Regions from separate parts of the Homo sapiens genome. Here regions 1 and 3 are each linked to region 2. Evidence: fine-mapped expression QTL. A gene starts in region 2. Each other region holds a variant in brackets. All regions are shown on one strand. Distances are from middle to middle.

What was found. PIP is the estimated chance that this variant, and not a neighbour inherited with it, causes the effect.
Region 1: its variant is fine-mapped to the expression of POLR2M in visceral fat (GTEx, PIP above 0.99). The same link has a PIP of 0.9 or more in subcutaneous fat.
Region 3: its variant is fine-mapped to the expression of POLR2M in skeletal muscle (GTEx, PIP 0.97).

Annotation. Positions count from the first base shown.
Region 1 is chr15:57,572,306-57,582,316 of GRCh38, reverse strand. No RefSeq gene overlaps it. Among named protein-coding and RNA genes, the nearest start is that of GCOM1, 15 kb to the left of the region's middle. The variant C/T (reference allele first, on the strand shown) is at 6,312.
Region 2 is chr15:57,700,680-57,710,690 of GRCh38, reverse strand. It overlaps POLR2M (RNA polymerase II subunit M), which reads right to left and starts at 3,977. Exons shown (of 4, transcript NM_015532.5): 1 at 3,736-3,977; 2 at 1,333-1,977. The coding sequence starts at 3,848. GCOM1 (GCOM1, MYZAP-POLR2M combined locus) reads right to left here. Exons shown (of 17, transcript NR_104371.3): 13 at 8,977-9,138; 14 at 4,319-4,757; 15 at 1,333-1,977. RefSeq lists a silencer at 3,493-3,542 and an enhancer at 3,863-4,082.
Region 3 is chr15:57,628,552-57,638,562 of GRCh38, reverse strand. GCOM1 (GCOM1, MYZAP-POLR2M combined locus) reads right to left here. Exons shown (of 17, transcript NR_104371.3): 6 at 8,709-8,861; 7 at 6,004-6,129; 8 at 4,822-4,950; 9 at 789-868. It overlaps MYZAP (myocardial zonula adherens protein), which reads right to left. Exons shown (of 13, transcript NM_001018100.5): 6 at 8,709-8,861; 7 at 6,004-6,129; 8 at 4,822-4,950; 9 at 789-868. Among named protein-coding and RNA genes, the nearest start is that of MYZAP, 42 kb to the right of the region's middle. The variant C/G (reference allele first, on the strand shown) is at 4,150.

The DNA.
Region 1 (10,011 bases), 130 kb after region 2:
TCTAATGGGAGTGAGTGCTTGATGTCAGAGGCTACTCATTAATCAGAGCAGACACATGTACATCCAGAGACACACAGTCATCATGCTGGGTGCCAATCCCCAAACCCTGCTTCACTGCAACCTCAGAGCAGGAGTGGAAGGAGGGACTGGGATGCTGAGTGCTTCTGTCTCCTGGATACATGCTCTGTCTCTGCCTTCCCACAAAAACACCCCATCAGCACCCTCTCAGTCAGCATCACTTCACCGTGACCTCTTCTGATAGCCACTCAGCTCCCATTGTCCCTGTCAGGCAGGGAAGATACCCTGGTGTTATGATTACTCCCATCAGAGCAGATGGGACAGGACCAGGGTCTGCTCAGAGGGGCAGGAAGGGAACTTCAAGATCTACCCCAGCTGCGGGGGCTGATGGTGAAATTGAGTTTAGCTGAGAAACGGGAGGGAGCTATTTAAGCAACTCCCAGTCACAGTCCCAACCATCAATCAGGAACAGGGAGTTTAAGATTAAACAGCTGCAAATTCTGATAGGTGGGCTGAGACCTGCAACAGAGCCAGAAGAGACACCAGGGTGGGCTACCAGGGAGCTGCGGGACTTCAGGCACAGAGCAAAAGGTTCAGGATAGGATGACCAACACGGTCCAGTTTGCCTGGATTTTCGGTTTTAGCACTGAGTCCTCTATCTAAGGAAGCCCCATTGGTCCCAGGCAAACCAGAATGGTTGGTCACCCCAGATCAGAGCAGCCAGCAAAGATACAAAAGCAAGACCAGACCCTGATATGAAGAAGGGATGCTGGGGACACATGCGGAACAGTGACTCCAGAAGAGTGGCCCAGACAGAAAGCCCAGGTATGAGGACCAGGACAGAGAAGAGAAACTGGACTTAAAAAGAGGTGAGGTTAAGTCCCTTCAAGGAGGTTAAAAGACATTCCATTTATTTTTTTTTAAATCTGTAGTCAAATAAAATTGGTAAAATCTAGGTTAAACAAAAGCAGGCAGGTTTAAGACAGTACACACTGCCCTAGTGTGCATGGAGCGTCTTCAAAAGAAGAATAACTATTCAGGGTTTTTCCAACTTAACTGACCACAGGGCCCTCCCAACCCCATGGAATATCTGCCCTAATAGAGCCCATAGGAGGCCAGCAAAATGCAAGCCCAGGTGGGGACAGATACTGCTTAAAGCAGCCTTTCAGGAATATGCCTTATCTGGAAAGAAAAGTTCGTTCATACGGAGACTGATTAGCTGGGTTAATCATTGTCAGGCTAGAGAGCCAGATGGAAGGACAAAGTCTCCATTTTAGACCTCATGGCCAAAGGGGGGCGGTGCAGCCTCCATCGGAGGGATGGGTCTGGAGTCAGCCATTTATCAGAGATTAAAGTACTGAGGCTAAGGACTGTCATTTGTCATACCAAATGTCTCAAATGGACATCGGCTTACCTGGTGACCCTCTATTCAGAGAAAGGAGGGGCCCAACTAACCCAGGAGTGGGATTAGGAGAAGCAATTTTCCCCAGCCTATGGCCGCATTAACTCTGAACGGGTGCAGAAAGAGGGTGAGCTGCCCTGAGAGTGACTTCTGTGGCTTCCGCATTTATCTTCATCTCGATTGGAGGGAAGCAGCTGGATCTGATCTGGTGGGAAGAGAGAGGACACACAGAGGGTTCTGGAACAACACTGAACCTTGACATGCCTGGTGCTGGCAACGCAAGCTCACTGGGTGCTTGGCCTTGAGAAGAGTTGTTGGAGCATTTCTGGGAAGCTGAGTGGCAGCCTCCTTCAAGAGCAGATTTGTGTTCCTAGGGACAAGCCACTGCAGGAGAACAAAGGTGGATAAGACCATCGAGGGCTTAGGTTTACAGTTCTCGGCCTGTATGACATACAGCGTGGTGGAAAGAGCATCAAATGCAGGCCAGGGAGCCTGGGCTCTGGCATATCTGTGTTGACCTGAAGTTATCACCCCTCTGGGGCTTTACACTCCCCCATAATAACTGAGAGCTTTGGAGCAGATGCTCTCCAAAGCTACCTTTTAGCTTTGACATTCCCAAAGCATTGTTAAACAATGTGATTCCCAAACATTTCTTTGTTGTTCTTTATTCAAGTTATTGACTGTTATTTCCTCCAAATCTTAAGCAGTTTACTCTTATTATAGGTCAAGCCTCTGCCACTGGGCAGAGTTGCAGGTTAGGTTCCCAAGAAAACTAGATACAGCTCCCCTCTTGGATGTTTAGATCGAAAGACAGGAGAAGCCACCTGCACCCAACCTACATCCTACACTCTAGTAACTGGGACGATTTCGACTTTCCAGAATGTGCTATGTGTCTCCATGCCTGTCTTTGCTTGTGTTCCCTGGAACACAGACTCTGAGGTGGGGACTTGTGTGCAGTAGGGTTTTTGGGGAGTACTCTTAGGAGACTCCCTGTCCTGGAGTGAGGATGGCAGGACTGGTAGAGGGAGGAGCTGAACTGTGATGCAGCCACACCAGAGGCCTCAGCCAGTTCCATAGGGAGCTCTGGAGCAGGATGGCTCTTCAGATTTGTCCTCAGTGTGGAGAAGGGAGCTGAGCCTTTGTACCTACCTGTTAACCAGTCCCTGGATTCAGGCTTGCCCTGAGGAAGGGACCTAAGATTGGGGAGGCAGCTTACTCCAGTCGAGGGCAATTCCTGTGGGCCATCGGCATCCTCCATCACTCCCTGCAGCTGGGTGAGGAGGATGTGGGTGGCACGTCGCAGCATCCACTGCAGAGTCTTTGCTCATCTCCTCCCTCCGCCATGCCCAGACGCCTTCCCCTCCCATCACTGCTGTTGTGCCTCTCCCAGCATTTCACTACTTTTTGTGTAACCAAGAAGTCCTCAAGGATAAGACTGCCTTATGCATCTCTGTTGCACCAGACTTCTACATCTGAAAAGTAGCAAGAAGGAAATAGAATATACTGAATCGATGAGGTCTCTGCATCAGACTATGGGTTCAAATCCCACGGCTACTCATTATGAGAGTACTCAATTTCCTTCCCTGAGCCTCAGTTTCTCCATCTGTAAGATAGGGGAAATTGTCATTTTCACTGTCTTTTAAGGTGGTTAGAATTAAATGAATGATATAAGTTAGACATCTGGCACATGGTAAGTACTTAATTAAGAAGAGGAGCAGAGAGGCTGTCTCCTGTAGCCTTTTCTCACTGGCTTATTAGGGAAGATCTGGAAGGGGAGGAGGAGTCAGGGAGGAAGAAGCCGTGGGCAGCTGTGACCATGAGTGGGCATCCTGGGGGAGCCATGGGCCCTTAACAGTGTAGGGGCAGGGGGGAAGAAATGAGGCCAATCCCCCAGGGAGTGTAGGCTGGGGGTGTGATCCCCTGACTATGGACAGCTGGGAAGGTCCTGACATGGGAGGGAGGGAAGTTGAGGGGAAGACCTGAGGGCAGGCTCAACCCCAGCCTTGAGCTTGTGTCCTGTTTCAGAGCATCGTGTCTTAGCCCTTCATCAGACATTATCTTCACAAAGATCTCTGAAAACACTCACTCCATGGTGTTTATTATCCTCCCCAAACAATGTTCTCAGTGAATAAGCAGACAGACATATCATAAATGCCAGGCGTTTCCTCCCTCTCCCGTTTAGATTTCAGGACAATGCATTTATCACTGTTTTATCATATGGGCCACCACATATACTTCTGAAAACAGAAAGCAGCCTGCATTTGAGGGGGCTAGAGAGCCTGACCGCCTGTATCCTGTCTCCTATGGGGCCGGATACCCCACTGCAAGCCCACTTCCACTTCCTCCATTCCCTTCCTCAACAAAACTATCCAGAAGAGAAACATTTTCCCATCTGGAGTGGAGAGAGACCTTTGTCCTGCCTACATGAGGGTGAAAGGGGAAGGCACCCTGTGACTAGACACTTCTAACTCTCCAGCCTTCCTCGCAAATTTCAATGAAGCCTCCACAATCTTACTGTTTAACATGATTATATTCAGATTGTGGGCATTTTATATTAAATGTTATGATATTTTGCTTAAGATCCTACAGAGTACAAATAGATACACACATGTCTTGCGTTAAAACTTTACTTAGAGTAGTAGCATTTGTCATAAATACCTGGCTAAGATGAAACCTCCTCGGTTCAGCTGGCTCGGCATATCATTCTGTTTGGACAGTTTGAAATGAGGGTCAGAATAGACCCTAACTTCAGCCAACTAAAAAGTTGTAGCCTTTCTCGCTGGCCTATTAGGGAAGATCTGATTATTCTATTTCAGGAAGAGGAACAGGAGAAGGAGTCAGGGAAATAAATTGCACTACTTTGCAGAATTGCATAGCTTCCTTCCTTCCTTCCTTCATTTATTTACTTGGCCATCTCTTCGTTTACTAACTCAATGGACATCCAGTTATTGAGTACTTTCAATGTGCCCAGTATTGTCCCAGGGTTGTAGGAAATACAAGGATGCATAAGACTCACCATTGCCCTGGAGAAGCTTGCAGGTGGGAGCGGGGCAGTGGGGAAGAAAGGCAGGGTTGCATGAAAGAATTATGTGTTTGTGGACCTAAGAGGGTAGTAGAGAATGTGAGACAGACAGGATGGCATGGACGGGGTTGGGCTAGCCCCACACTCATAGTTCTTATGGTTGCCATGAATTTTGCCATTACATTTTATCCTGAAAGCGCTAGGAAGCCACTGAAACATTTTAAGCAGAAAAGTCCAATAAGACAAGACTGTAAGTGGCACCACCAACTATGAACGAATGAGGGGTGACGGTAAAGAACATGACCTATCCAGTTTATAACCCAGGCATGAAAATGTGCCATAAAGACTCCATAAATATTTGTTGAATAATCAATGAATTCATGAAGATGTTTCAGAATAGCAGGGGAGATGTAATTTCTGGAGATAAGAGGATAGGAGGGATTGGGACCTTCTGGAGTCTGGAAAAGGTTTGTAATAATCACAATAGGAATCCAAGAGATAATAAGAAAATGATGAATAAAATGATTGCCAAGCCGATCAACATTATTAGCCATCAGGGATATGCAAATCAAAATTACAATAAGACACTACTTCACATACATGAGTGGCTATAATTAGAAAGATAATAACAAGTGTTGGTGAGATATGGAGAAATCAGAACCCTCATTTGCGCTGGTGGGAATGGAAAACTGACTGATCACTTTGGAAAACAGTCTAGCAGTTCCTCAGATGGTTACATATAGACTTAACATAGGTCCAACAATTTTACTGTCAAGTATATATCCAAAAGATACATACCAAAGATATATATATATAAGTCCACTCAGAAATTTGTACACAAATTCTCATAGCAGCATTATTCACAACGGTCAAAAAGAGCAAACAACCCAAATGCCCATCAACTTATAAATGAAGAAGCAGTATGTAGTATGTTCACAAACAGCATGTTATTTAGTCATGAAAGGGAATTGAGTACTGATACATTCTACAAGATGGGTGAACCTTGAAAACATTATGCTAACTGAAGAAAAGCCAGTCACAAAGACTATATCTTGCATGGTTTCGTTTGTATGAAATGTCTGTAATAGGCACATCCAAAGAGGAAAAAAAAAGTATATTAGTGATTGCCCAGGTCTGGAAGGACTCCTAAAGAGTATGGAATTTCTTTTTAGAATCATGAATATGTTCTAAAATTGATTGTGGTAATGGTTGCACAATTCTGTAAATATTCTAAAAACCATTGGTTTGTACACTTTAAATGGGTGAATTGTATGGTACGTGAATTATAGCGATACACATATTTGTGGATAAAACTTTTACACACACACACACACACACACACACACAGTGATTGCCAGACCATGGGGAGTCCGGCAGGGGAGTAAGTATCATGACTTTGTAGCGGAGCCAATCAGTCTGATTTTCTTACTTTCTCTGAGCAGTCTCAATGGTTGAGGGGAAAACAGCACATGAAAAGAACAAGTCAGTAATAAGCAACAAGAGTTAACAGTTGCTGAGAGCATCTACAGACCAGACACTATAGAAAGCTTTGTCCACATTCTCTCATTTTATGTTACACATGTCTATGTACATATATACATATATATTCTATCACATCCTTCCAATAAGGTAGATGCTCTCATAAAGTCAATGTTGCCTCCCTGAGCGTGGGAGCTGGAGCCAGCGGCTTGAGTGGAGGGTGATATGTTAATGCACCAGGAGGGGCCCAGGCACCTGTAGTCTCAGGAAGGGTAAAGAACTGGTTCTGAGAGTGGAGCAATGGCTTGCAGAGCTGCACATAACCTGAGGAATTAGTGGTTGCCGCTCTGACTGTGAGTTCTCAGAGATGGGATAGTTTGAAGCATGGTG[C/T]CTTCCAAGCTGAGGAGGAAGTGGGGCTGAACAAAGGGCGAGGGGTTTGGTCACAGGGCTGTGACAGCCATGACAGGTTGCTCATCATCCCCAGTGGCGACATGATGGAAGTCTTCCAAATCTCAAAATTCTATGAATTTCAAGGGGATGGACATGTCGAGGACACATCCCTGGAGGAAAGTGAAGGGGAACTCCATCACCTACCAACCAAATGTGGAGACGGAACATGCAAGAACCAGGACCCTGACGAATACAATTGCTTCTGTCAGTGGTTCCCAAACTCTCCATTGCCAAGGACATCTTTCAGTCACACTCGCTATGAATAGCACATTTGGAAAGTTTTTGTCTATCCAATTACATTTTAATGAGTAATTAATTTGTTTTCAACATTTCTATTAATCAAGGAGATTAACAATTGCCAATTAGAGCTTCTAACGAGCTGAGACCACCAACCTTGCCTGGCTGGATTGCTGTTGGCCCCAAGCCAAGAAGCAATGATCCCATCAGCCAAGGCAGCAGTGCTTGGGAAGCTGTACATTTTCTTTCCGTCAAGCTTTTCAGAGTAGCGGAATGGCCTGCAGGTCCCCATGAGAACATCACCAGGCCCAAAGGGTGCATAGAGCCTTGTGTCAGGAATCATTGTCCTCATCTTGTCCCCCATGGCCTGGGCCGTCTTGCCAGCAGGCAGAGCAGAGGGAGGGGCAGCTATAGGTTGGGCCAGGATTTGCATCCCTGAAGGACAATGTGGTAATTAACATTAAACAGAGGCTAAGATATTGAGATTTCATACGCATCTTTCCCCAAATTTCTAAAGTTGTGCCAAGACTGTGTGATTTTGTTCTTTTCAATAAAGGCAATCTGTTAGGTTTAGAGTCTAGAGGGGAAAACCAAAAGAACGTGAGCCATTTTTGTAATTTTAATCTTTCTAATAGCCATATTTATTGACAATAAAAGGAAACAGGTAAACTTGATTTTACTCATATATTTTATTTAACCCAATATATTGAAATATTATCATTTAACATTAATATTATGTTACTAGTAAAATAGTAATGAGATATTTTACATTTTCTTGTACTAAATCTTCAAAATTCATCGTGTATTTTACACTCAGGTCATTTCAATGTGTACTGGCTACAATGTGAGCACTCAATAGCTGCAGGGTGGTAGTGGTTACAAAGCTAATAAGAAGAGGAACTGGAATTGGGACCCCCAAGGGGGAACTGGGACCCTGTTCCGACCTCCAAGTCAGTTCTGTCCCTGCTGCTATGCAAGAACTATTTTTGTTCCAACACAAGTAAATGACTTCTCTGAAGATATCCTTAAAGCTTACCCAGGCCAGCCCCCCACCCAAGGTGGAGGGGCCTATTGATGTGGCCTGGAGTTCACGGGAACATCATAGCACAAGATAAACTCGCTCAAAGAAGACATCAGGGCCAAGATGACAGACTTCAGGGCTACTCGCTCTGTTGCCCAGGATGGAGTTCAGTGGCTCAATCACGACTCACTGCAGCCTCAACCTCCCTGGGCTCAGGGGATTCTCTTGCCTCAGCCTCCCAAGTAGCTGGGACTACAGGCATATAGCATCACACCTAGCTAACTTTTGTATTTTTTTGCAGAGAAGGGGTTTCGCAAACTCCAACTCAATTAGATGAATTCTGGCTCCATAAGAAGCATGTGTTTCCCACTGGGGCCTCCCCTCCGACCTTCCAGAACTTGGCACTCAAACTAGGTATATCTTATCCCTTCCCCAAGTCCCTGTCTAGCTGCTCTATCCACGTACAAACTCAGAGGCTATTTTCTACCATGCAGACTGGGATTCAGAGGAAGAACCTGACACAGGCAGGGGAAGCAGAGGAAGCAATGGGGAGAAAGAACTTGCAGGGTTCCTGCAATGTCCCCATCCCTGATTCAAATTCCCTGTTCGTGGGCTCTGTGAGACATCCCTCCAACCATAGAACAAGTTCTTTCTGCCACTTGAGGTCATCTCAGTGAGTTTTGGATGATTGCAGCCAATTGACCCTAACAGCTGGGCCTCACTCAGAGGCCCAGGAGTGGGCTCCAGTTGAGCAGAAGCCTGCGGCCTTATTTCTGCTTCCTCTTCTAGATGGCAGTAGGGCCACCCCAGTTTGTCCCCACATCCCATCAGCATTTCTGAGGATTTTGTTCAGTCGTATTACAAGTTTACTGGGGTCCTGCCATGGAGGACCTAAGGCCTCTGTGGGCCTCTGTCCTGTCTACTCCACATTCAGAGCCCTGGCTCTCTTCCTGTGAGTCCCAAGCTGCCCATCAAGTCTTCTCTGATCCCCAGTTGGAACACATGCTCCTTCTGCATTCCCACCCCTGTTACTGCATCCCAGGCTTCACCGTTAAGCTCCTACTTCCTTCTGTCCTCGCTTTCATTGGAAAGCTGATTGGATAGCCAGCTTCCTCACTTAGTTGTGGGTAAGGACAATATTAATCACCTTTTATTTTCTCAGGTTTCTCCCCACACATCTCCTTCCCTGTGCCTACGAAGTAGTAGGTGCTCAAATGTGTTGACTGAAGGAAGGACAAGATGAAAGGAGAAAAGGAGTGAAGGAGGAAGCAAAGAAAGGACGCTTCAGCCACTTAGTTAAAGTATAAGATAACATCTAGTGTAATTCAATTCTAGACCAGACTGCCTGCAGGAGAACCTCACCAAGAGGAGCCAGCCAGCAAGGGAATTGCAGCCTGCATGGTGCAGACAAAACAGCCCCGGAATGGCATCTTTTTCAGGGAAATCAAAAGGTCTTAAGCAGCGAGCTCCCATCATTCAGATCCTGAATGCTCTAAGGGGATCATACAACTGCAATTCACTTCTGCATATGCATCTATTACGGTGTTCACATCTGAGTGCAGCACAGAAACAGTCTTTTTTTGTTGTGTTTTTGTTTGTTTGTTTTGAGATGGGGTCTCACTCTGTCGCCCAGGCAGGAGTGCAGTGGCTCAATCACGGCTCACTGCAGCCTCAACCACCTCAGGCTCAGATGATCCTTCTGCCTCAGACTCCCAAGTAGCTGGGACTACAGGCACACATCACCACACCTGACTAATTTTTGTATGCTTTGAAGAGATGGGGTTTCACCATGTTGCCCAGGCTGGTCTCAAACTCCTGAGCTCAAGCGATCTGCCTCCCTTGGCCTCCCAAAGTGCTGGGGTTACAGGTGTGAGCCGCCACACCTGGCCCAGAAACAGTCTTTAAGAGGGATGTGGATATTCAAGAATTGAAATTTAGAGACTCAGAAAATGGACCTAATGACAAACAAATGTTTTTTGAGAGCCTAACTGTTTCCAGATGCTCCACTGGACACTGGGAATCCAATGGTCAGCAAAATAAGCACGGACCATACACATGTGGAGTTTGTAGATTATTGAGTCAACAGCACACATCAGAAATTGACTCAAAAAAATTAAAATCTAAAGGCAAATAAATGTTAAGCAATTATTTTGAGAGGCAAAATTGAGATAATAGAATAAGGTTTGGATTCAGACCAGAATTGGGTTCAAATGCTGATTTTGCAACATTTAATGAAAAGAAGACAAAATTATACACACACATGGTTTTAAAAGTCCAGTGGTTCTACAAGTTTATAATGAAAATTAGCACCCTCTTGCCCCTTGATCCCCATTGCGTAGTCACAGCCACTTTTAACTCTTTAAGCTATTTCTTCTGGTATTT
Region 2 (10,011 bases):
GCTAAATGACCATAATACAGAACTGGGATTAATGTATTCTTTGTTTTATTTATTGACTAGATGATGGTTCTAGTTTTCTAAAATGTCATCCTGGAAGTGAAGAAAGATACCCCACTGTACACAAGAGAGTACTTGATCACGTTAATGTAGTATAATCCTGATTTTCTATACAGCAGAAATAAAATGTTTTGAGGTTAAAATGAATGCTGGGGTAGAATTAAAGTCTAACAAAAAAGAAGCATGTTTTAGATACTTTTCACTAGAGGTTTTCTGTTTTTCAAAGAAAGGTAGTAGTGATTTAACTTTGATGTTACATACTTGTAAATACAATATAGGAAGAAGGTACCAGTTACCTGAGTTGAATGTTACATTTGCTGCAAGTAAATAGCAATTATTTTCAAAAAGATTTTACTTTTCCTGAAATTTCAGAAACAAATTTATGGCAAGGAACTGATAAGCAGAGTTTTTGCCTATCCTGCCTGAATCTATTTTCACAGTTTTTCAAACCTCTTCTCAGCTTCCTTCCCCCTGAAACTGTTATTATTATGTAGCTTAACTCTTTTCCAAGTGTGTAAACCTTGGGTCCTCATGTAGCTCTTAAACTCCTTGAAGAACATGGTATTGTATTACATTACACATGTATACATTACAGCCATGTTTTTAAACTTGAGATTTAACATCAAAAAAGGCAAAGGAGTTTTAAGAATCTTGACTTAATTGTGTCCCCACAACACCTGCTGCTTGCTTACATACAGTGAGCATGCAAATAATTTCTGCTGGAAAGCCCATCAGCTCCTGCAATTGCTTTACCCTTAGTTCACAGACTAATCAAAGAGAGTACACTTTGATAGTACACTAATCAAAGCTGTACACTAAAAAATGGTTCTGAAAAAAAGAAGTCATAATAAATTCTCTCCAACTCTGTGTTTATTATGAAATACTGGCTAAGCATCCTAAAATTTAACACTCCCCCATGTGCTTTAAAAGACCTTGTCGATTATTTGGTTTCAAAACTAAATATTTTTCAACATGAATCTTCTACTCCGGCCAGGCTGGTCTCAGTGTTGCCACAACATGTTATTTCCTAACTACAAGTAGTTCTCATACAAAGCCCACGGAACTTAGAGCATTCTCCTGACTTATTTAAGAGAAAAGGTCTTATTATATTGCCCAAGCTGGTCTACAACTCCTGGACTCAAAGCTGTCTTCCCACCTCAGCCTCCTGAGTAGCCTGGGACTACAGGCAAGCACCACCACACCCAGTTTCTCGTAAATTTTTGAGTTTAACAAATATCACGTTCCTGTTACAGGCCTGTTTCCGAGGGTACTTACACATTGGTTTTAAATTTACGCAGCTGGGGCACTGGGTTTTTGGCTCGCATTTCTAGCACTTCCATGTAATGAGGTTTCTTCTCAGTCCCACTGGAAAGGCCTGTCAAGTTCTTAGTACTTGCGTTTTCTTCTGACTGTTGTTCACCTTGGTCCGCAATGGTGATCCTCTGTAACCTGTCAATAAACAGGTTGTCAAAGCTGCTGGAAGTATCTTCCGCTTGACTTGAAACACGATGCCGCGGGTGATGCTCACTAGCTTCAGATGAAGGTGGTACCCTGTCTCTATTGCTGGAAGCTGGGCCCTTATTCACTGTGTACTCAACCTCTGAAGTCTCTTCATCACCTTCAAGAGTAGGACGTCCAAGTCCCTGGTTTTGTGAGGTTTGAGATGACTTGATGTTATCTACAGAGGAACATCCAGGAACTAGTGATGAAGTATCAAGTATCGGGTCAGAATTCTGGGCCTTATCTGTACCCACATCAACTTCTGCAATTGCTTTTTGCCTTAGCTTACAGTCTAAACTAACAGGGTTAAACAGTTCACTTTTTCTTCTAACTTCTTCACATTCTGCAATGGCAGCTTTCAGTTTGGCAAAAGAGTCAAAGATCTTTTTACCTTTGTCGGGCAATTTGCAAATGAATTTTCTGTCAAATGGAAAAGAATACTATTACATTACAGCCATTTTTTTAACTTGAGATATAACATTAAAAAGGCAAGGCATTATCTTCAAAGAAAGAAAAGCTGATTTTTAAGTCAAATATCTGATTTCTAACTGCCCCAAAACAAGAATAAAACAATTAAAATGGTCATTATCCAAATAGCCCAAAAAACAAGGGAATGCAGGAAGAATAGGGAATATATGCCTCATTTGTCTCAGCAAATTAGAATTTCAGCAAAAGTATTTTAAGCATATAATAATCACATAAGACATTCCAAGAACCAGCAGTCATTAAAGTGCAATCTCCAAAATTTGGGGATGGGGTGGAGTGTGGGGATGGGCCTATTAGGTCAAAACTACTTTCATAATAATACTAAGATATTATTTCCCTCTCATTTTCTCGCATGGGTACAGTGGAGTTTTCCAGAGGCTACATGGCATGTGATGACATCATTGTTCTAGAATAGAATGTGTGCTTGTGTATGCTTATGTTTTAAAGACTTCAGACGTATTTCTGATAAGTAAATACATTTCGCTAGATACAACACATAAAATAGCTCTTTGGGATGTCAATAATTCTTAAAGTATAACGGAGTCCTGAGACCAAAAAGTTAATTCACTGCTATACATTCAAAACCTATTCTCACAAGGTCAAAACACATGTCTTGATCCCAACCAATTATTTATTTGTCCCTTTTGCTGGATGACAGAGTTCCTTTTCTGATTCCCTTTTCTTTAACTATACAATAAATGGAAAGAAAAAATTACACCTTAAGTCCTCTGTTCTTTTTGACACTACATTCATCCCCACAATTTCAACTATTAACAACACTCTACAGCTGAAATTCCTGTTTTCTGTATTTTTCCAGGGTTCTCTCTTTCTTGAGCCTCATGACTACTTCTCCAGCTTTTAAGTGTTTGGTTTTCGATTAACCAAATGTCTGTCCTGCTCTCCTCTCAACTCTGCACACCCTAAGTAAAATCAACCTTGGATCTATTCCTCTCCCTGAATTTTCCTATTTTTGCTAGTGGTCTTCCATATAGATTGGAAACTTCAGCCATCTCTGTCAACTGCATTTAAATTAGTCCATGCTTAAAAGTTCTCCCAATCCCTTCCTAGCTCACTTTCTTACAAGTGTCTCGTGGGAAGTCTCTCTGAAAATATCCTTCTACTGTCTTCTGCTTTTTATTCCTTCAAACCATCTTTTGCAACAAGCTGCTGAACAAAGCTGCCTAAAAAACAAAATCACTTTTATTACGTGGCTCCCTTGCTAAAATCCGTTCAACCAGCCAGCTGAATGAGGGTCGAACTTTCCCGGCCTAATAAACCCCTCTTCATATCCCACTCTTCCCATTTCCTACGGTTCCTGTAAGCTTAGAATCCAGAGATGAAGCTGACAATCTGTTATGGGTTAGGGGTGCGGGCGACAAAAGGGTTTAGAAAGCAGACTCATGGAACCACCACAGTCCCCGGGTAAATAAAACCGACCAGGGGCTACTAACTCCCTGCAACGCCAGGTAGCCGTTCAATCCGAGCTATCCTCGCAGGCATACGTGCCTGGCCAGGAAGAGGCACGGCTCTGCCGCAGCAAGCCCTCCGTCCACTCGCCCGTAGGACTGAAGCGAATGTGACTGAGTCAAAGTCACCTTCCAGGGAAGGGAACAGAGTGCGGGAGGGGAGGGGAGCGCCCAGGGAGCTCGAGCTGAAGGAGCCTGGCGGAGACTCCGCGGGACCCCAGCTTACTCGTTGCGCAAAAGTCTCTCCTGGCGCTTCAACATTTCCCGCAGCTCCACCAAACTCCGCTGCGCCAAGTCCTCGGGAGCTTGGGGCTCGAAGCCGCGGGGCAGCGAGCACATTCTGCGCGGGCTGAGGCTGGCGCGGCGGCGGGCACTCGGCTTCCTCGGCAGGCCCCGCTACTAGCGCCGGATCCGCGGACGGCGGTGACTCCGGGGCACGAGCGGGAGTCGCCATTTTCCCGGAAGAACGGGGTCTTCTTCGAGCCGAATCGAGCTTTATTGAAATTCCGGAAACAAACACGGACTGGGAGAAGGGGGCGTCCGCAGGAGCGTTAAAGGGCGGAAGTTACGTCGGATGACGCCGGCTCCTTGGCTTGGCGCCCTTTCCCCTTGTGTGAGCATTCATGCGGTCATCAGCTGTTCGTCGGTTTATACAAAAAGTATTCAGCGCCAGCGTGACCTCACCAAGCACTATGTGTCAGTCAACAAATAGCAACGTCCTGTGTTATACTTGGGGTTTACAGAGTTGGCGGGGGGATGGGGGGAGGGAGAATCAAATTATGATATAATAGTAACGTTGGGATGGGCACCTGGGAAGATATCTCTGAGAAGTGGTTCAAGTCGAAACTTGAAAGATGAGCTGGCCATTAATAAGGTGGGAGAGAGTGCGGGACAGGATTTGGGAGACTCTGGCCTGTGCGTGGTGCCTCCGGCCTGTGCGTGGTGCCTCCTAGCTCAGCTTAGGGACGTCCTGAAATTGTTAAAGTTGGAAGGTTCCTCAGAATCAGCGATTTTTCTTGGGGCTCAATGCATTTGGAGAAGGACTTCATTTGTAGCACCGCCTCAAGCATTGTTAAGACATTTGGTGTTTCTGGCTTCTGCCTGCTAGGTGCTATGGCACTCCCAAGTCATTGCAACAATCCAAAATGTCTCCTCCAACATACATTTCCAAAGGCCCACAAGAGGTGATGAGGGAGTGGGAGCAGCTGTACAAACTCGTTGAGGACCTTTTCGAATTTTCTACTTTGCCTATAGAAAAACAGAGGCATGAAAACTGAAATAAATATTCCCAGGGCACAAAACCAGTAAGTGACAGCACCAGATTTCAAACTCAAAAGCCCAGCCCCTTTTCCAACACACCAATTTGAAAATCCCCTTCTTCACTTTAGGCCTATTTCCAAATGTGTAAAACTGTTGAAAAGACTTCCCTCCGCCCCCCCCCACCCCCGCCACCTCCCCAGCTGTTGAGAAGAAGGCAGCTTAATAGGTATTGGACACAGCTTTTACCTTCTCGTTATAGTTCAGCTACCAGAGGTGCATCCCAGTGGAAAGAGTAGGAAGACATGCAGTCACAGCAGATGTCACTTGGGAGGTTTGAACACCCCCATAACCCACCGCCCTCCCCCGATTTTTTGATATAGGAAATTGAAGTTGTCTCAATCCTGTGTAAGATGCTATATAAACACAAGCAGCTCTGTCCTAAAGAGACAGAAGATCTAGGTAAACTCCAAAGCTATTCCAGGGAGCACAATTGCAACCATTTATCTATCCCCCCAATCTGGTCCATTCTGATCAGATTCATTAATATATCAAAATAAGTTTTCTCTGTATAAGACTTGCTTTCAAGGACGTTAATAACGTGCTGCAGCATTGGCTGAATGAGAAATAGGTAAGGTCCTCGAGTCAGGTGGTTGTCTGTGGTACTGACAAAAAAAAAAAAAAAAGACTCCGTAAAATGTTGAAGAGATGTATTCTGTGCCAAATATGAGTGACCATGGCCCGTGACACAGCCCTCAGGAGATCCTGAGAACACGTGCCTAAGGTGGTTGGTGCACAGCTTGGTTTTATACATTTTAGGGAGACATGAGACATCAATCAAATACATTTAAGATAAACATTGGCTTAATCCACAAAGGTGGGACAACTCAAAGCAGAGCGGGTGTGGGGCAAGATGGGCTCCCAAGTTATAGGTAAATTTAAGTTTTTTTCTGATTGGTAATTGATTTAAAGGAATGTCTAGGTTAGCATAAGAACTTGTGGAGACCGAAATTTTATCATGCAGATGAAGCCTCCAGTTAGCAGGCTTCAGAGAAAGTAAGTTGTGTTTCTTATCAGACTCAAGGTATATGTGTTGATATTAAATGCTGTGTAGCTTTTCCTGGATTCTAAAAGAAAGAAGGGCATAATGAGGCATGTCTGACCTCAGCTTCCCATCATGGCCTAAGCCAGTCTTTTAGGTTAAATTTGGAGGACCCTGGACTACAGGAGGAAGTCCATTCAGACGGTTGAGGGCGGACCTTCAAATTTTATTTTTGGTTTACAGTGATAAGCACCCCGCAAGCCTCCCTCACCCCACCCCTGGACCCCAGCTGGAGGCCTTTATTTCTCCCACAGTAGTGAACTCCCCATGTGCTGATTGTAGGCCACAGGTGTCCCCAAGGCAAGGATGCCTTTCTTTTAGGCCTCAGAATTTTGCCCCCTTCTGTTACCCTTTTGTGGAAGGCTATCTCTTCTCCCCTTGCCAATTGTAAGTCTTGGCTGAAGTCTCACCTCCTCCCTGAACCTTCCCATGTTATTCCAAACCAAACTTCTCTTTCTTTTCAGCACAATTATAGGGCTTAGTTAAAGTTGGAACCTCACTGCATGAAGCATATTATACTTCTCTAATTGTGTTATGCATCGAGATTTCTTTTTCCTTTCCTAACAAAATTGTAAAGTCCTTTCTGTGAGGGAGCTATAATTGTACTTTTTCTGTCTCCTCTCAGGAACATAGCATGTAGTAATTGACACAATCTCCTTCTCTCATATTTTTTTCTCTACCTTTCCCCCATATTCCTCTTTCTCTTAATGAAATGTTTCTTATATGCAAATCTTAAGCTTTTTATATAATTAATCATCATTACTGTGTAGATTTTTCAGTGGTTTGGGATAGAATCTTTTATACAGTATGGCTTAGGGCTTCAAGATATCATAATACAGATCTAAATTCCCACCAGCATCCAAGCACAAACTGTCTAATTTTGTCAGTAACCAGGAAGCATGGCAAGTGGAAAACATCACTCTACAACAGAAGCAGACTACTTGCAGCCTATTTACACTTCAAAAGGAAAATAGGCAAAGTATTCTTTTATAATTTATGAAACAAAAAATAAATATCTAGGACACAAATTTTCACAGCAGTGTCTAGAGAAGAAGATATAAAATGGAGAAATTTAACAATGGAGAAATGAAGACTAAAGAGAGAAACAATGAGTGCTACAGGTTATACCTGTTTGCAGCTGAACCAAACACTTGAAAGGAAATGGAGCCCACAAACCACAGACAGCTAATCTCTGCTAAAGAATTCCAGTTGCCTGTCAAAGAGCCCATCCGTTATAAAAATGAATCTGGGCAAGTGTTTTGGGGTTTTTTTGTTTGTGTTTTTCAGTGCTCATTAAAAAGATGAATCACTTTTCCAGTGGTACTTGGATTAATCTCCTGAATGTTGCTCTCAGAGTAAACTAATAAATTTGGCTGCGTTTGAAAGGAAGGAAAATTCAAAACAGAATTAAGGGAAAGGAAAATTTCATTAGTCACGTGAGGTGCTGCCAAGATGACCTATAGACATCCCACTGCCACGAAGCTACACAAGGACACTGAACAAAAACAAGACCTGGGAATGATTTCCACTTGTCCTTACCTAGTTGAAGATAAAAACTGACAATCAATTGTAAAACTGATAAACATAAATGTTTAGAATTTCCAGGCTGTTCTCCTCTGTTTTCTTGCTTTGATTGTCATTGTTGGGGCATGAATGGCCACAAAACTGGCCATGATATAGTTGGAGTTGACCAGAATGGCAGCAACAATATTTCCCATCCTAAATGTGTTCTTCTTGCTATGTGAGTTTAACACTCCTCCTGTCAAGAAATGGGGTTATTCTTCTCTATCCTTGAATCTGGGCGTGCTTATAACTAGAGCAAAAGTGATTTTTCTAGTCTAGATGACAAAAGGTGATGCAACTTCTACCTAGCTTTCTTGAAGTGCTTACTCTTGGAACTCAGCAAGCAAGCCATGAAGAAGTCTGCATTTGCGTAGATGTTTTGGCTATCATCCCAAGCTGAAGTTTCAGCCAACAGGTAGCATCAACCACCAGACATGTGAGTGAGCAAAACTTTGGATAATTTCAGCCCCAACTGTCCAGTCACTTCCAGCCTTCACGACATCCAAATTGAAGCCTCAGACATTGTGGAGCAGAGACATCTTCACTATGCCTTTTCTAAATTTGGGGTCGTTTATTAAACAGCAGTAGTCACAGGAACTTTATCCAAGGTTAATCCCTTCAGCTATACTATGGATCCCATCTGTTCTTGCTTCTTTGGAGATCTCATTCATTTGTTCAGTAAGTAAATATTTATTGAGCGTCTATCACAAGTGAAACGCTATTCTAGGATTTGGTGATATAACGATGAATGAGGTAAAGAAATTTCCTGTTACATTGAAACTTTTATTCTATCAGTACTAAGAGTCACATAGAGAATTAGTACAGAGTGATTTGATAAGGAGTGACTGGTAGACTACTTTGATTGGGTGACTGAGGTTGGGTTTTCTGAGGAGGTAACTTTTAAGCTGGGACTTCAAATGACAAATGATCAACTGTGGGAAAATCTGATGGAAAAACATCCCAAGTAGAGGCAAGAGAAGATACTAAGGCCGTAAAAGGAGAAGGAGCTTAGCATGTTCAAATAACAAAAAAAAGCAATGTGGAAGGCTGGGGCTAGATCTAGCAGGGCTTTGTAGACCAGGATATGGAGTTTGGATTTTACCCTAAAAGAAATGGGAAGCCACACGTGGTAGACAGCCTCTAGGATGGCCCCCAGTGTCCCACTCCAATGTAATCCTCTCCCATGGAATGTTGACTGGACTTAACTGACTCACTTCTAATAAATATGGTAGAAGTGATGGGCACCACTTTCCAGATTAGGGAATAAAAGATTTGAAAAGACAGTTTACCAAAGAAGATATATAAGTGAAAAATAAGCACATGAAAGAAGACCAGTGTTATTAGCCATTAGGAAAATGCAAATTAAAAATACATGGAGAAGCTGGGCATGGTGGCTCATGCCTGTAATCTCATCTACTCAGGAGGCTGAGGTGGAAGGATTGCTTCAGCCCAGAAGTTCAAGACCAGCCTGGGCACCATAGCAAGACTCTATATCCAAGAAAAAATAAATAATAAAATCACAATGAGATATTAGTACATGCCTACCAGAAAGACTGACCATTCCAAGTGTTGTAAAGGATGTAGAGCAACTGGAACTTTGATACACTGCTAATGGGAATGCAAAATAGTACAACCTCTTTGGAAACCAGTTTGGCAGTTTCTTAAAATATACCGTTTGACCCAGCCATTCTTCTGCTAGGTATTTACCTAAGAGAAACAGGTAAATGAAAGCATATATTAATAGAAAGGCTTGCACATAAGTGTCATTGCAGCTTTATTTGTAATAGCCCAAAACTTGACACAATCCATTAGTAGGTAAGTGGATAAACACGTTGTAGTCTGTGCATATGATCGAATACTCTGGTACATGCAACAACTCTGATGAATCTCGAGTATACTGAGAAAGAGGCCAGGAAAAAATTACACACCGTATGACTCCATTTATATAAAATTGTAAAAAATACGAACGCATCTATAGTGATAGAAAGCAGATCAGTGATTATCGGATGTTGTGGGGTGTCAGGGAGAGGCTGGGAGGAAGGATGACAAAGGGGCAGGAGGAAACATTTGGGAGTGACGGGGATGCTCAATACCTTAATTGCGGTGATGGTTATATGGGTGTAATCATTTGATAAGTCAAAACTTACTTCTAGAGATAAAAAGAGAAAATTAAAAAAAACTTATTGCGCTGTATACTTTAAATATGTCCAGTGTATAGCACGTCAGTTATACCCCAATAAAGCAGTTAAAAGCTGCCCCCAGCTTCCACCTGCCTTCTTTTTTCAGAGATACGCGTCCTAAAAGAATTGTCCACATTCTCTGACTCCATTTCTTCACCATCTTGCAAGCACCATGGATCCCTTCATGGCTGTCAGATTCAAGGAATATGTCTTAGTCCTTCCCCTTCTCACAGCATCTGACCCTGTTGAGCAGTTTCTCCCTCTTAAAACTCTCTCTTACCATAAATTCCAAGGTACCAATCTCTCCAGGCTTTTAAGCACAGGAGTCTTTTGGGGTTTTGCTCTGGGACTAGAATTAGAGTCAGGGTAAAGGCCTTACCACCTGAATGTCTCAAAGGTT
Region 3 (10,011 bases), 72 kb after region 2:
CTCAGCACTATGTTAATGACTAGCAAGCCTCCTGTAACTTTGAAAACTCTGAAATTGCAAATGAGGAAGGAAAAATGGGTATTTTTTCAGCACGTACTATTTGGCAGGCAGCAAGCCCAATAGTTCTCTTAACAACAGTAACCTAGTGAGATGGGCACTGTTATCACCGTCATACCCGTCTCCCCCGTTTAAAGATGAATTTCCATGTGGCACAAGCAAGACTCAGGGAGGTTAAGTCACTTGCCCAAAACACTCAAATCATCTCAACCTTGTTTTCCTTCACTAGAGACCCCTGAATGGCCTCTCTGCATTTTGATTTCTAGAACAGACAGCGTACTATTCCGTGTTTTTCATGTAGGGCTTTATATACTCACTGCCAGAGGATAATGCAAGGTTTTACTAAGCAAAGTTTGGAAACAAAGAAAGATGTTTTAAATTGGTTTCCAAAGCAAGTGGTATTAGTCACAGCTGATGAGTTTTCTCATCAACAAGGTGTATCCTGTGGAGTTCAAGGCCATGGAGAACATTAATAGACCAAACTTTTGCACTTGTGAAAGTATTTGATGTGTTCCACTACACTAACAACCAGCCATGATCTGCAGGATGTGGCTGGAGGCTTCCAAAGAAACTTGTTCCATATTGGAAACTCTCAGCCCAATGTTATGTATGCTTAAGTCTGTAATAAGGTACAACCACACAAATGAAAATGTAAGGGTCAAATGAGGTCATAAAAACACAGCGTGTCCACAACCTAAATCCATTACAAGACGAAAGGCATTACGTCTTACCTTTCCTTGTCAGAATCAGTTAACTCCCCAGACATTTCTGTTTCATGTTCTAGGAGTTGAAGTTGCAGTTGATGACGTTCCTAAAACAAACAGAAACTGATATTTTAATCAATGGATCCCAAGTTTGACAGAGAATGTCTATTTAGCAATTCTAGCACTAGGGAGTCCAAGTCTATATGACACCCCCTGGGTTTTACACACCTGCTCAGCAAAGCCCAAACAAGGCTCAAAACTGCCAAGTCTGTTGTTGTGTATTTATAGATATATTTATGGGTCAGAGACAAAACATCCTAAATAAAACCATTCAAGATTCATTTTCCAAAGTATTCCATCAGCCCAGGATCAGTGAAAATTTATAGCCCCAAATACTGATTATCAATACTTTAAACTGGTGGCTTGTGATACTGCAAAATTCTTTATTATTTTCTGAATCATCAAGAAAAGAGGCTCTGGGATTCTGGCAATATCCTATATTCTAACTTGTGGTGTTTACACAGGTGTATTCACTTGTAAAAATATGTTGTGGTCAGATTCATGGCCCTCCAAAGATGTCCATGTCCTGATTCCTGAATCCTATGTGTTATCTTACATGGAGAAAGGAATTCTGCAGATGTGATTAAGTTAAAGATCTTAAAATGGGGAGATCCTGGGTTATCCAGTTGGGCCCTTCTAAGGAGGAGGAGGCAGCAGGGTTAGAATCAGAGAGAAGGAGCCTGGAAGATGCTCTGCTACTGCCTCTGAAGCTGCAGGAGGGGGCCACAAGTTGAGGAGTACAGGTGGCCTCCAGAAGTTAGAGAAGGCAGGGAAATGCATTCCCTTCTAGAGCTTCCAAAAGGAATCCAGCTCTGCCAACACCTGGATTTTAGCACTTCTGACCTCTAGGAATGGAACATAATACATTTGTGTTGTTTTAAGCCACTAACCTTGTGGAAATTTGCTATGGTAGCAATAGGAAACATACGCGCACTAAGCCGTGCACTTTGTACACTTTGCTATATATATGTATATTTAGAAGTTTGCCCAAAAAAGAGTCTGGAATCATTTCTTTGGACAAAGCTGAAAAATGTTCATAAAAACATGGTGCCTGTCATAACCGAAATTGTGCTAAAAATACATTACAGATGTTAGTGTAACAAATTTCCTTAAAATGCAAGTTTATCAAATAACGCTCACTAATTGGGAGATTATTTTACTTTAGGTCCTTCTCTAAGAACTAATGTTCCTCATCTTTATGTTCGGAAATTCCACCCAGCAAACTCTTACTAGCTACATAGATTCCAAACCTCTTTTCTACCAAATTATTAAAAGCAAATCTTTGAAAATTTAACTGCCACAACTTCTGAAGCTATAAGCAGTGGTATACCAAGAGGTAGGCCAAAGGGGTGGGGAAGCAGTCCACCTTAAGCAGGAAGAATATATTATCTCTGAAATATTTAAAATAACAAAGGTAGATCAACTTTGACTGGGGTTTTGTTACTGTTTTTAAATCTCTACAGCAAATGCACATTCTTATGGCCTGGCCTGAGCAGAACATTCCTCCTGCCCCTATGTGGTTGGAAGTTTTACATTAGCCCCGAAATAACAGTGATAAAAGCTTTCACAAGTGAATGCCTCCCTCCAAAAAGAAAAAAAAAACAAAAAACAAGAAAGAAAAAGGCTGTCATAAAGTAGAGCAAGGTCTAACTTACAGCACACTTTTAAAATTTGTTTTAAATTGAGGTACAATAAATCTTAAGTGTACACTGCACAATTATTTCTTACATTTGTAAACACCTGTGAAACCACTGCCCAGATTATGGCATAGACTATTATCTGTTCCCCAGAAGGGTCCCTGGTAGAGAACACTCCTTAAAAGATTTTTACTGATCAGAAAAAAAGGTGTTTGAAATACAGTGCTCAGCAAGAGAAACAGTAAACTAAGGCATATGGCAGAGAAGCCATTCAAAAGCACATGGTTTGTCCTTGAGCAAAATCCAAAACTGAGAGCAGGATACGTACACTGCCACAGCCCTGCCTAGGACATGCCGTTCACGTAGTGTGAGACAGCGATTTGGCCAGATTCCTGCTCTCACAGATTTATCCCTGAAAAGGAAACAGTGTAAATTGGCCTACCTAATGTTAGTTCAATAAATAGAGCATTTCTCTAGCCTAAATGGAAAGGAAGATTTAGAGAAAGGACAATACATTTCCAATCACTAAAGAAGAAGCCAACACCACTTGGGGAAGGTTTTGTGTTTCCTAAATGCTGGCAGGGAGGGCTGGCCTTACCAGCTTCCTGGCTCTACCCATTCATCCCACATGAGGGCTCCATGTGAAAATCAGTGGGGAAAGACAAGAAACTTTCAGAACCTCAAGACAGCAATGAAGATAAGCATAAAATGGGTCGTGCTAAAGACAACCTGACTCTGAGGGTAGACATTTAGGCAACCTCGTAACAGAGTAAAAATCATAGCCACAAATGATCGAACCCTTACTATATACGAGGAACCATGCTTAGCACTTGGCGTGGATTTTTCTCATTTATTGCTCACAAAAGCCCTAAGAATAAGAAGTACCATTATCAGCATTTTACAGAAGTGGAGACTGAGTTAGGAAAAACCAAGTAAGTGCAAACAACTACAAAGAGACACAAGATTCAAATCCCCAGACTGTCTGATTCTAAAGCCTATGTTCATGACCACTACCTGTGGTTTCTCTGTATGACGGCATCTCCCCCAGACCACCCTGCTATGCTGCCGGCTCACCTTGCTTCTTTACGCTGCAGAAAAACCTGCTGCCCAGAGAGAGAGCATCTGAGTTAACTGGGATCTTCTGCTGTTGTAGGAGGACAATAATGTGGGAGGAAGCTCACTCAAGCTCTAGAAAGCTCCCTTGTTGCCCAATCTTCACCACCACCCCCTCTGGTCAATACTAATGTTAGTCCTGACTAAGCCAATCACCTACTCTTCAATAAAAGATGGGATTCTGTTTTCCCAGGGGGTAGAAGGGAGATTGTAATTGACTCTTTAGTTTGCCCAAGTCTCTCCCAAGTAAAAAGCTAAAGAGCTAAAACGAAGCACCCAGTGAGCTCTGAAGCTCCACAGAACTGAATTTCATGCAGTTCCCATAGTGGCGACACCTCGCCTTATGAGGGGACAGTACAGGGGCTTATGCTGCAAACACCATTAGCTAAGGCGACCTCTTCTCAGCATCACATGAAGCCTGACAGTGACCTTGCTCTTGCTGCCCCACCTCTGCCTCCATCATCAGATTGGAGATTCTTGGCATCCCGAATGAGTCACAGGGTGCTAATAATGTCAGGGTCTTGGCAGGTCACTGCTCTCTGCAAACTCATATGCAGCCAGGGAGCCATTCCCAGAAA[C/G]CAGCCACAGACTTGGCCCTGAACTCCTGGGTCCAGAAGTCAGCCGTCACCTGCTAAAGGTCACCCATCCTTTCTCTTCCTTCTCTTCCTTCTTTTCCTCTTTCCTTTCTCCCACCACTTCCTCCCCTTCCTCCACTTCCTACTTAATTCCTGGCCTCTTCCCTTTCACTAGACAGGCTTCATTATCCCAGCTGAGCTCCCGCCTTCCTCAGGTTCCCCCACCACACTCACCAGCCTGCTTACAACACCTAGAGAAATGGGGCCTCCCTACTCTCTCAAGTCCCCAGCGTGTCAAGGAAAAGCCAACCCTTGAGACACATGCCCCAGAAACAACAGGGCTGCTGTGTTGATGTAACACCTAAATAGGGCTTGATAATTCAATGGATAAACTAAGTTCACACCTGGGGCACCAGCAAAGCAAGGCTGCTAAAATATTAATTTTTCTAAAGAATTTCACAAGTAATATTTTTTAAAAGCATCAAAATAGTTATCATGGGAAAAATGAGAACGTTGTTGGACTTCCTTATACTTTATTTTATAGCTTTGTCTTTTTTTTTTTAATTGCAAATTTTGGAGGTGAGAGGAATCCATATCCAGGGCCTCTCGTATCTCAGATGGACCTACAGGGAAAAGTTTGGGCAAGTGGGCAATAGGCCCAACGCTGTGTCCTACCTTTTCCATGCGCTCAATCAGCCTGTCCAGCTCCCCGATCCTCTGGTCTTTCTCCTCTAGGCTGATCTCTGCTGCTTGCATCTTTTTATTGGCTTCTTCAATCGCTTTCAGAAAACTATTGGTTTCTTCCTGCAAAAGAAATATACCCTCCTAAGTACAGGCATGGAGTACCGAGGCTACTCACCGGGATCCAATCAGCTCAGGCCTTGCTAGATCACGATTTCTCTTTAAAACATGACCTTGGAACCTGAAAGTGTCTCACAGATCATGAACTCAACCTCACGGTTCTGGTTCTCACCTATGAATAAAGATACATCATGTGGCTGGTTAATGGGCCTCACTACATTTTTTTCCCTTTTTTCCCTTAAGTCTTTATATCCAAAAGGTGTAAAAGAGGCCTACAAATGTTTAATAACATTGAGTAGATGCTCAGAATGTCACTGTATTTGCCAGAAGTGTAAGGGAATTAGAACCAGATCTGGAATTGAATGCAGAATTCCCAGATCCTTCTCCCATAATGCAATACATCAGCTCATTACTAACAAGAAAACCCAGTCAATCATCAGAACATGTATTAAGCCTCTACGGACACAGATGAGCCAGACATGGAGTCCCCGCCTTCAGGAACTTATAATCTCCTGGAAAAGCCAAGATGTGAGACGCACAGCCCCACTCTAATGGCAGGTATAAAAGAATTCCAAAGTAAAAGCAGAGAGAGAGTGAGTGAGCTTCCTAAGGACAGATAATGGTTCTGGCTCCATGACTGGAAGAGACTCCAGGCATGGAGAGAGTGGCATTTAAGGCTTTTAGGGAGCTTAGGCAAGATCAAAGATAGGGAAGGAGGAAATTTCAGGTAGAGAGAACCAAATGGAGGGAGGGAGGGCACAGCTGCGGGCAAGCCCAGGGTTTGCTTAGATGCTGGCAAATTGTCAGATGAGCTAGAAAAAGGTGTGTATTTAGAGACAGAGACAAGGGGCTATTCTGAGTAGAGACGGGGATGAATAAAGGCAGAGGGGAAGAGGGGAGGGGAGTGAATGAGCAGATGAATAATTCCTTGATCCCTTACCCATGGCTGAGTCTACTGACCCACCTCTAAGAATAAACACTACTACGTATACATCACCAACAATAATGAACCAACAATTCCCGGTAAGTTTACATCGGCAGCTACAACACACACACCAAAAGAGCCTCCTTCTCAGCACTGTGCTTCCTCTGTTCTTCCTGCAGCTTCTCCTCATACTGGCTGTACAGCTTCTTGGTCATCTCTCGCATCACCTCAGCATTGGCTTCTTGGGACGATTCCACCTACAACGAGACTCATTTCAGAACGACAGCTTTTGCAGGGCCCAGAGGAATTGGCAGCTTCCACTGCACATTTCATGTGGGGACTCACAGAGGTAGTGAGCCCATCCACTGGGTTCTGCAGCAGAGAGACACAGCAAGACCTAACAGGGAAAGGGAGGAAGAGGGGTGAGCAGAGCCACAGAAAAATAAAAGTGGCATTTCACACGAATTTTGGGGGCATTCTCAGGACAAAGGTATGCTCCACATGAGTGACTTTTTCAAAAGGTAGAAACTTATTTCTCTACGCAATCTCATCAGTTGCATTGGCCAAGCCAGTTTCTAGGTAAGACCAGCTAAGCTCAAAGGAGAAATCTGGACTCACCCTTTCCATACCCTTGTGCTTTCCTAAATGTTGCTTTTGGAAACATTCCAACCTAGCATGGGGAACACTAAGCTGGCACCCCTAGTACTGAAGCAGGCCTGGCTTAGGAGGTGAGAAAAAGTCAGTGGAGTTGCAGGTGGGCAGGGCTTAGGTTGGTGGTGGCTGGTGCCTCCTGTTTGCCAGGCCACGTTCTCACACACAGACTTCCCGCCATTGATTTTATGCTGCAGAAGGTTTGCTCTCATCCCCTCCTTCCAGGTTATCGCCTATTGCAGAGAGCTGAGTTTGCTGCATACCTAAACTCTGGAAAAGGGAAGCATTCTTCAAACTCAATAGGTTACATGATGTTATTTCCAAGATGTGACAAGTCTCTCTTGACGCCCTTGACTTCTCCCTTCTCATCACTGGGTAAGTGTTGGCACCAAGAAGTTCCAAAGTGGAAAGTCCTGAGCAGAGCTTATGACCAGCTGAGAGAGACCCTGTGTGCTGTGTGCTCCATTTGCAGTGCACGCACAGCTTGCTGGAAGGGCTCTGTCCCTGGAGGCCCATTCACTCTGCATCCAGGTCATGTAACATACCCTGAGTTCCTGAAGCTTTTTTTTTTTTTCCCAATTTGGGGAGTAAAATAGGAGGAGTAGGAGAAACCTTTTTAACTCCACTGTCAGGATGAAAACAAGCATCAGTCTCTAAAACAGGCAACTGTGGGCTGGAGTTAAAGGCCTGGACTCCAGGGAAGCAGCCAGATTGCCAAGCAGCCTAATGATGTCCCCAGATGCCTGGTGACAGGCCACCTCTGGAACCAACAGGACTGAACAGGACACACACATAGAGTAGACACTCAATAAATATTTGTGGACTGAATGATTGAATAAATCCCCTAAGCTGAAAAAAATTACTTAAATCAGTAATTTCAGGCTTTTTTAGCAACATAAACTTTTTTCACCCCCCAAGTAACTCTTACTGAGAAAGTAACTCTTACACGGAAAAGAAGAGCTGCCCTATTAGAAGTGAACATACAGAGGAGATGATCTGTCCCATGGCTGTGGCAGGCCAAGTGAACTGGCAGCAGATCCCCAGGGCGGCAATACAGAGACCGGGCGGTGGACCGGCAGCCCCTCTTCCCCACCCAGCCTACCCCTGTGAAGGGGCCCACACTTCCCAGTTTGTCTCCCTAACTAAATTACCAATAGTACCACCTTTCACTCCCTCACATATTCTGCTTTGAGCAATAAACTATGTGGATACGCTACTCATAAGATAGCCTAAGTCTGTGCTGAGCAAAATTTTCAAACCACAGACTTACATAAAAAGGAATTCATCCAAGATATAATTTATTAAGTGCCCTCCAGGAGCCATTCATGGATCTGCTCCTGTCACCGGGTAGGAAGTCTATCCACAGTTTAAATTTGGGAGGGGCACTAATGCCTCTAGGGCATTAGAAGTTCAGCTAAGGAATGCTCCCAGCCTAGGGGGCCAAATGGGACATTCCCCAGTGTCCCTAGTCACCCACCAATTTTCTTCTTGAGAATATTGTACTTGGGGTACAGCCCAAGTACCAGCTATTTGTGTGCCCCTCAGCTCTTTATTGTCAAGCCAAACAGAAAGGCCTTGGGACCTCAAAGAAAATCTAAACAGTGAAGGAAGAGATCTCCAAGGCTTCTGACGTCCCAGATCTGTGGGCATCCCAAGCGTCTTCTCAGTTACATAACAACAGCACCATGGTGAGTGTCTAAAGAGCCCTTGAAGGGACTGGAGGCCAAGAAAGGCATGCCCAATGGGGGCATTTATGGAGAAGCCCCAAACTGGGCCAAGCACGGTGGCTCACGCCTGTCATCCCAGCACTTTGGGAGGCCAAGGCAGGCGGATCACCTGAGGTCAGGAGTTCGAGACCAGCCTGGCCAACATGGTGAAACCCCTTCTCTACTAAAAATACAAAAATTACTGGGCAAGGTGGCACGTGCCTGTAATTCCAGCTACTCAGGAGGCTGAGGCACGAGAATTGCTTGAACCCAGGAGGCGGAGGTTGCAGTGAGCCATGATTGTACCACTGCACTCCAGCCTGGGTGACAGAGTGAGACTCTGTCTCAAAAAAAAAAAAAAATCCAATGAAGAAGAGAATGGAGAAAAGGAAATGGAAAGGTTGAAGATGGGAAGAGAAAAGGGAGAAGTAAAGAGGAGAAAAGTTCATAGAAAATAAATCTAGGCTTTTATACTCCACCTTCATTTTTAGCAGCTGGTTTTCAACTTGCGCTACCTCCAACTGCCTCTGCTTTTCCCTCAGCTTGTCCATGGATGCTTCATACGTCTGCTGCAGATTTCTGATTTGATCCTTAATGTTGCTGTTTTCCAAAGTCACATCCACGAGGGTTTTCTGTGAGGATGAAAATAAAAACAAAACCAGATCCGGTGGCGTGAAAACACATGGGCTGCACCACATGCTGGGGCATCCCCTTATCATTAAGCACTGGGGTAGCTGTCCTAGGCTACAGCAACTGCCAGTCTGGGACCCTGTGCTGTGAGGGACTGTGGGTCTCCCATGGTGGCCAAGAGGTCTGCCCCTGTAGCTTGGAGGGACTGAAAACCTCTCCCATACCATCCCATAGCTGCTGCCAACACCACTTGCCACTGCTTAGGATGGATGGAAATGGATTAAAATGGAGTCCTTCCAAGGAAAAGTATTATAATACATCATTTCACATGGGAAAAAAAACAGCTTTTGAAAATAGTAAGTATAGTATAATCCCATTTTGAAAAATATGTATAAGCATTGGTTCAAATATATGTTTATGCACTGGGGGGAAAAAGACCAGGAGGAAATCTGAATGATAGTTTTCACTATGTGATAGGGCTATGGGTATCTATTTTCTTATTTATTTTTTCTGTATTTCCCAAATTGCCACAATGAAATCAGAAAACAAAATACGAGCTTTATAGAATAGAGATATTCCTCTTTTTATTCTTTTTCTTTTTTTTTTTTTTTTTTTGTTTTTGAGACAGAGCCTTACTCTGTCGCCCAGACTGGAGTGCAGTGGCACGATCTCGGCTCACTGCAACCTCTGCCTCCCAGGTTCAAGCGATTCTCCTGCCTCAGCCTCCCGAGTAGCTGGGACTACAGGCGCCTGCCACCACGCCTGGCTAATTTTTGTATTTTTAGTGGAGATGGGGTTTCACCGTATTGGCCAGGCTGGTCTCGAACTCCTGACCTCGTGATCCACCTGACTCGGCCTCCCAAAGTGCTGGGATTACAGGCGTGAGCCACCACGCCCGGCCTCCCTTTTTTCTTAAAAGAGCTATCCCTTCTGCGCTTCTAGACTGCCTGCCAGGATAGTGACAATGTGACTGAGAATACTCACATACCTGCAAACATTTCACCTTCCTCCCTTAGGCAGAGAAGGGTAGTAATAAAGAAGTACTAAGGAACAGAATTTGGTAATGCAGACAAGTGATTTTTGCTCCAAGCCGCACAAGTAATTTTTGCTCCAGGCCGCACTGAAGCAAGGATGTTTAAATCAATAGTGTTG